Homo sapiens: one gene and its partner. The protein of the gene in region 2 purifies or fractionates together with the protein of the main gene of each other region. This does not show direct contact. Each region holds a gene or a part of one and is shown on either strand. Other genes may lie near its edges.

Region 1 (3,644 bases), on a different chromosome or scaffold from region 2:
TCACTTCCTCACATCTTTCAGGTCTGTACAAGTGTCAGCTTCTGAAAGAGCCAGTCCATCTAAAACCGTAACCCCTTCCCCTCCGCTTGTACATACCACCAAATTCACTATAGATTTTACTTATTTACTTTTTCTGCCTCTCCCTGGCCCTTAACTGCAGTAGAGCAAGACTTTTGTTTTGCTCACTCCTGTGTTCCCAATACCTACCACAATGCCAGGCACATGGTACATCTCAATATTTATTAAACAAATGCATGAACAAACTAAGTGAATAAATAAATGAATTCTCTTTTTTACAGGATCTTCTTCATGCCAGCCATACCGGGCAGGAACCATCAGAGAGACACACTGAGGAGGCACTCAGAAAATTTTGATAGAATTGAATTTACATATAGCTGATAAAGCCTAAATAGAAAGGTTGATGTATTTAGCTTGAATCCTTCACTTTAGTGGTCTAATCAACAGATAAATGACAAGCAAAGAATGAAACAATCCAAAAATGTTTTTCAAAACAATTTTGTGAATTTTATTTTTACAAAAATTTTTTAAATTCATATTTTAAAATGTATACCAAGGCAAAAAAATCATATAAGCTATATCATAAATACAAGAGTTTCAAAACATACAAGAGACATATAATGTAAAAAAAAATTATATATATGAAGTCCAATGTAATTTATAATACAAAAAAATACAGCAAGGGAAAATGCTTTAGAAATGCTCATCTGCAAACTACAAAACAAAATCCTCCTCTTGACCGACTGCATGAACTGCCATGAAATTTGCAGCTCCATCATACTAGGTATCTCTTCTTTCTTCATGTTACCTTGTCTTTCTTCCCATTTTTCTTTTAAGACAGGGTCTTGCTATGTCACCCAGGCTGGACTCAAACTCCAGGGCTCAAGGAATCCTCCTGTCTTAGCCTCCCAAGGAGCTGGGATTACAGGCACGTGCCACCGCACCTGGCTCCTAATTTCTTTTTAAGACAAGGGCCATTCAAGGCTTTTTAAAACCTGATGTGTGTTGTTATACTTTATAACAGTCAGTGGCTTTTAATTCCAAAAGGTAATACTTTATACTCTGCCTACATGAGATGAGCCCCTAACAGTGTGTACAAATAAAATTATGATTTGGGTATTCTAAGGAGACATACCATTTACAGAAATTTCTTTTGATAAAATTAAGGTTTCACTTTTCACATTTGCTTAAATCACAGTAAGCCTGTAAACTAGCTCCTTGACCCACCATTTAAAAACAAAAAACCTCCTTAACAATGCAAAGGATTGTATTCACTGTATTTATGATTCCATCAAAGGCTAAATAGCTTATCTAAAATACATCTGAGTGATCTATTCCCTTACCCTCTCCCCGACCTACCCCACAGTTATACTAATATGCACCAACAATAAAAACAAGTTATCTACTATTAACACTAGTAATCATTTGATTTAGTTCCAGTTACAGAAACAAAAAAAATCTTTGAATTTTGATTATATTTTCTGGGAACCACATCTACTATTAATTTATCTCCATTGCCCTTAATAATATATTTCAGAGAAAATGTTTCTTTAGATTTACGCTTCAACTAAAGTTCCTGATCAGGAGGTCAAAAATAGCTAGTTATTGAGTTTTTTCCCCTGTCAAAAGCTATTTTTCCTGATTAACCTTGGAGATAAAAGAAGAGAAAGGAAAGAAGGAAGGAAAAGAGGATGAGAGAGACAAGGGAAAGGAAAATAGGTTGGCTGGAAGGTTAATCTTCTAGAGTTACAGTGACTCATCTGGAATTACACAGAAAACCAGAGAATTCTCTTGAAATTCATTAAAAGAATGGCATTCACAATGCCATTCATCTAAAAGTAAATGGAATTAGATGAAAATTGTTCTATTTCACATTTCTTAGAAAAATCTTATTAAGGCTTATGATTAAAATTGGCCCCACCTCAATGACTAACATTTAGCAGTGGAGAAACTGCTTTTTAAAAAAGAAAAAAGTGAGGATTAGGAAAGATCAGGTTTCATTCAAGTAAGAAGTCTGATATGTAAGAAACAAGAGGGAGCAGGAATAGTGTCCAACTCAGATACTGACAACTAGAGTCCAGATATGGCACAGGGCTGCCAGCAGCTACAGTGAGAAAAGGGTAGACCAATAAAATCTACTCTTTCCAACATACAAGTTTTACTTCACAAAAAGAACTGCTGAAGGCCAGGCCAGTGGCTCATATCTGCAATCCCAACACTTTGGGAGGCTGAGGCAGGAGGATTACTTGAGGCCAAGAGTTCAAGACCAGCCTAGACAACATAGTGAGACCCTGTCTCTACAAGAAAACTTAAAAATTAGCTGGGTGTGGTGGCTCGTGCCTGTAGTCTCAGCTACTTGGGAGGCTGAGGCAGGAGGATTGCTTGAACCCAGGAGTCTGAGGCTGCAATGAGGTATGATTATGCCACTGCACTCCAGCCTGGGTGATAGTGCAAGACCCTGTCTCCATTAAAAGAGAAGGGGCCTGGCCAGGCACGGTGGCTCACGCCTGTAATCTCAGCACTTTGGGAGGCCAAGGCGGGTAGATCATGAGGTCAAGAGATCGAGACCATCCCGGCCAACATGGTGAAACCCCGTCTCTACTAAAAATACAAAAATTAGCCTGGCATGTGCGCACACCTGTAGTCCCAGCTACTCGGGAGGCTGAGGCAGGAGAATTGCTTGAACCCAGGAGGCAGCGATTGTGGTGAGCCGAGATCGCGCCACTGCACTCCAGCCTGGCAACAAAGCAAGACTCTGTCTCCAAAAACAAAAAAAAAAGGTGGGGGGGCCTGCTAAATCCAAGACTCACTTATTGAGTCAATTAAAGGAAATGCTGCAGACTATGCACACAGACACAATATTTTTAAAGCAAATTTAAAGAGTGCAAAAAACCTCTAAGATTGTATTTAGGAGAACAAAACCCCCTTGGGGTAAGTGTGGTTCAAAAAGCAGGCCACTGCTACCCTGAGGCACAGCCTGCATAACAGTAATAAATACAGACAGTATTAAAATACCAATTTCTTCCAAATTCTTCTCATTAATTATGTCAACCATTTTGAATGCATCAAGACAGAATTTTACCAACAGTACAACAAGGTATGTATTCACATTTTCATTTGCATCCTAAGGACAAACTGTTAATGATGATCATGAAAAACAAGATTAAAGGTATGTTCATTTGGGAAAAAGCTACATTAATATTATTCATCCAACCACAAACACTTTTGTAATGAATGCAATACTGCACAACAATTAAGAGCTTTATAAAAAGTTGATATCAGGGTTTCATTAGAATTTTTTTCCAATTCAAAAATTTAAAAAGTTCAACTACATTAATGCTTAACTATTTTATTCTAAAGTCTGTAAAATATATAAAATACCAAGATTATCCACAGTCACATATGTTTTGAAGTCAGGGGACACGTGTATTTTCTTAAGATTGGTTCCATTTGTGTAGAAGGTCTGTGAGGATTCCCCAGTGACAACGTTCCACCACTGTTCAGAGAAAAATAAAATTCTCATTAGATTGGTAATTACACTGTGTGACAATTTATAGTGCCAGCAGATCCTTTACCCTATCTCCTCCCCCCAACCGAACTCAAGCAAACAGGAGGAAAATGTCTCG
Region 2 (3,500 bases):
TTATTTTTAATAAAAGAAGAAATGGAAAGACCATAAATCACTGGAATCGATGTACCACCACAATTGAGAACAAAATATTTTATTTCTCTCACAAAACTATAGTTTACAGTAGTATTTACTAAATAAATTATATAATTTCTCTTTTACAAGCAATAAACTAGATCACAAATATTTCAAAGACAATGTATGTACACGACATAAGGCCTTTTATAAATAGCTTTGCTTTTCTCATTTCACTAGTAAACAGTGAAAAAATCTTTATAGAAGCTAGTTTTCTATAAAGTGAAGGCAGACCTAGTATATTGATCTTTAAATGAAACCAATTTAAACTTTCAATGACATGAACTATAATTTTGCAAAAGAATTTATACTTAATTTACCATGTGTGTGGATGGATTTTTAAAAATATATAAGCAGATTACATATGTTGCTTATGTATAATCACTGGATGCATGCACAATGAAATAATGCAAAAGTCCATAGGAAAATAGCACTTCCAACTCCAAAAAGGTGATTGGCAATGGTACAGAAAGCAGCTTAAATATAGTTCATGCAGTTCTTCACAGTTCAGCAAGCAACAGCAAATGATAGAATAGGGTAGTATTTTTCACATCCCATCTGCTGATCAGCCTGAAGTTGACATCTTGAAAACTCTTAAGTCAGGTTGATGATTTCTCTGTGTGTAGTGGGGCTCAGCCAAGTTGCTGTGGATAATTCTGGTGCGGAGAAACTTCTCTGCCATAACTGTGCTCACGTCTCATCCATGTGCTTAGGTGATCACCATTTTCACTTACTGGGGGGAGCAAAAAAGCAGGTGTGAGACTAGATTTTGGCATCAATTTGTAACCTCTCCCCATGAGTCGCAACATAAGTTCGTTATTTCTCCCAATCACTTGTGTCTGGAAAATGGGGTGCATTATGTTTGGGATTCTTCTGCAATGATCAGCATAGCATATACTTCTTTGGTGGACCTGAAACCTGTTAATTACACCAATGTTTATCAAGATTGAGTCCTGACTACATCACAGCACTGTGCTCGGGACTTGGAAGGAAGCAACACTGACTAAGACACCCTCCTGCCCTCCAAGTGCACAGGGATGAGGGGATGTGCTGTGGTATATTAGATCTGAAGCCAAAAAGAACAACTTGAACATGGCCTTGAACTTGTAAATGTTTTTTTCCAAACAATATCACTGTGGCTGGGTGGTAACAATATGTTCAGCAAATGGTAGCTATTTAAATGGTAGCTATTTAAAATCAGAGCCAGCTAACTCAACCTGTGACAGCAGCACTATGATATATGTGGGGAAAGCAATATTATATTCAGCCTTTAGAGACAGACACATTGGGTCAAATCATCTGATTTCCTATTTTTTTTTTTTTTAGATGGAGTCTCACTCTGTTGCCCAGGCTGGAGTGCAGTGGCAAGATCTCAGCTCACCGCAACCTCTGCCTCCCACGTACATGAGATTCTCCTGCCTCAGCCTCCCGAGTAGCTGGGACTACAGCTGCCTGCCATCACGCCTGGCTAATTTTTTGTATTTTTAGTAGAGATGGGGTTTCACTGTGTTAGCCAGGATGGTCTTGAACTCCTGACCTAGTGATCCGCCCACCTTGGCCTCCCAAAGTGCTGGGATTACAGGCGTGAGCCACCTCACCCGGCCTGATTTCCTAATTATTTCATCTGTAGAATATTATGCAACATCTTCTTGGAACCTTGTTGTTTCATCTATAAAGTGGAGGTAACAAACTCTACTTTATAGGGTGGTGGTGAGGGATAAATTTTTCCATGGGGAAAATGAAGTGTTTTACACACACACGATATACACAAATCATATATTTATAATTGAGTACTGTACCTGGCATGTGCTAGTACCCCCAAAATTGTAGTGAAGAAGGTTGGAGCTGGGGGTCACAGAGACTGGTGCAGCTCAGCACCTTTAATTGGAGGCTTGAAAAAACTTGAGTAAAAAGTTTGAAATAACTGAAAATTATTAGGAAAGAGAACATGTCACATACAGGGAATTCTGTTTAACAATTAATATTTTATCTGAGACTATTGTGCACTGTAATTTTTATGAACTTACTATTTTGTTTTATACGTTGGCCGCTCCCTCTCATTCACCTAAGCTAGAAAGGTTTGCTTGGCTAAATGCACAACATGGTCACGCTGTTACTCAAAAATAATCTGTAGGAAGAGGTGAGTGTAAGGTGCTATAAGCTATAGCAGTGGGCAAGTGGGACGTTGCCCACATTCCCAGGATAGCTGTCTTTAAGGTGGACTGGTGGATTTCATTCAGCCTCAGTCTGATAACTTTGATGTATGGTGCAGGTCTCTCACAAAACCAGTGACATACAAAACAACCCACATAAAATGATGAGGTCCTACTGATTAGATTTAGAAGTCCTGCGTTCTTAAAAAACAAAGCAGAATAAAAACAAAAAGAGGTGATAGTTTTGCTTTCCTCGTTCTATAGATCACACTGGAGTTCTGTGTCTCATTTCCAGTGCCAGACTCTGAGAGGGACAGTGAGTAACCTGAGTGATGCCTGAGGAGATCCACCAGTGAAGGGCCCTGGAGCCAGGACCCCAGGGGAATGGCTAAAGGCCTGGGCTTTTTGGTCTAGAAAATAGGAGAGGTAGAGACAGGGCATAATAGTTGTCTTTGAGTCTCTGAAGACTAGCCTCAGGGAAGAAAGGCTTAGGTATTAGTTTAGTCCCGGTATTGCTGAAAGATGTGACACTGTCACCAGCAATAGTGGCACAGATGCTGTGATCCTGGGGTCGGGAGGTGAGTGGAATCTCAGAATGTGTGAAGGGCGTAGAGTTGTAAAGCTGCACCCCCTCCACTCTTTCTTCATTAAGGATCCTGAAATTTATGTCCTCCCCCAGCACATGTCATGTGTACATGACGCAAGCCCTCCCTAGATACAAGGGCCCAGCATGCCATCTGCTGAGACTCAGTGGTTGAGAATGATCCCAGAAGCCAGAACCCAGGACAACTGCATGGAAGCCAGTTTTTTCTCAAGCTAGAAGTGCTTTTTAACCGGAGTAAAAAAAATGAGTGGGCTGGGTATGATGGGTCACGTCTATAATCCCAGCACTTTGTGGGGCTGAGCCCAGGAGTTCAAGAACAGCCTTGGCCACATAGTGAGACCCTGTCTCTACAAAAATAAAAAATAAAATAAAATAATTAGCTGGGTGTGGTGGCATGTGCCTGTGGTCCCAGCTACTCAGGAGGCTAAGGTGGGAGGATTGCTTAAGCCCAGGAGTTTGAGGCTATAGTGAGCTATGATCACACTGCTGCATTCCAGCCTGGGTGACGGAGAGAGACCCTGTCTCTAAAGAAAAAAAAAAAGAAAGAAATGAGTGGTCACTAAAGAAGGAGCAGTTGCTGTCACTTAGGGATCAGCCCCAGGAGAGCTGAGGCAGAAACTGTTTATCCTGACCCAGCACCCAGAAGGCACAGTAGAGAGGACTTGGGCACTTGTGGGTAGCTT

Evidence for each region. Proteins that work in one complex are often made in the same cells at the same time.
Region 1: the proteins of PIP5K1B (region 2) and APAF1 purify together in Homo sapiens (affinity purification with mass spectrometry; one large-scale study listed by BioGRID and IntAct). This does not show direct contact.

What each region holds. Positions count from the first base shown.
Region 1 is NC_000012.12:98,732,290-98,735,933, reverse strand, and holds the end of APAF1 (apoptotic protease-activating factor 1), read right to left. Parts: intron 3,515-3,644; coding exon 3,368-3,514; 3' UTR 501-3,367; downstream 1-500. UniProt on the Homo sapiens protein: Oligomeric Apaf-1 mediates the cytochrome c-dependent autocatalytic activation of pro-caspase-9 (Apaf-3), leading to the activation of caspase-3 and apoptosis. This activation requires ATP. Isoform 6 is less effective in inducing apoptosis.
Region 2 is NC_000009.12:69,005,740-69,009,239, reverse strand, and holds the end of PIP5K1B (phosphatidylinositol 4-phosphate 5-kinase type-1 beta), read right to left. Parts: intron 794-3,500; coding exon 791-793; coding exon of another isoform or gene 787-790; 3' UTR 64-786; downstream 1-63. UniProt on the Homo sapiens protein: Catalyzes the phosphorylation of phosphatidylinositol 4-phosphate (PtdIns(4)P/PI4P) to form phosphatidylinositol 4,5-bisphosphate (PtdIns(4,5)P2/PIP2), a lipid second messenger that regulates several cellular processes such as signal transduction, vesicle trafficking, actin cytoskeleton dynamics, cell adhesion, and cell motility.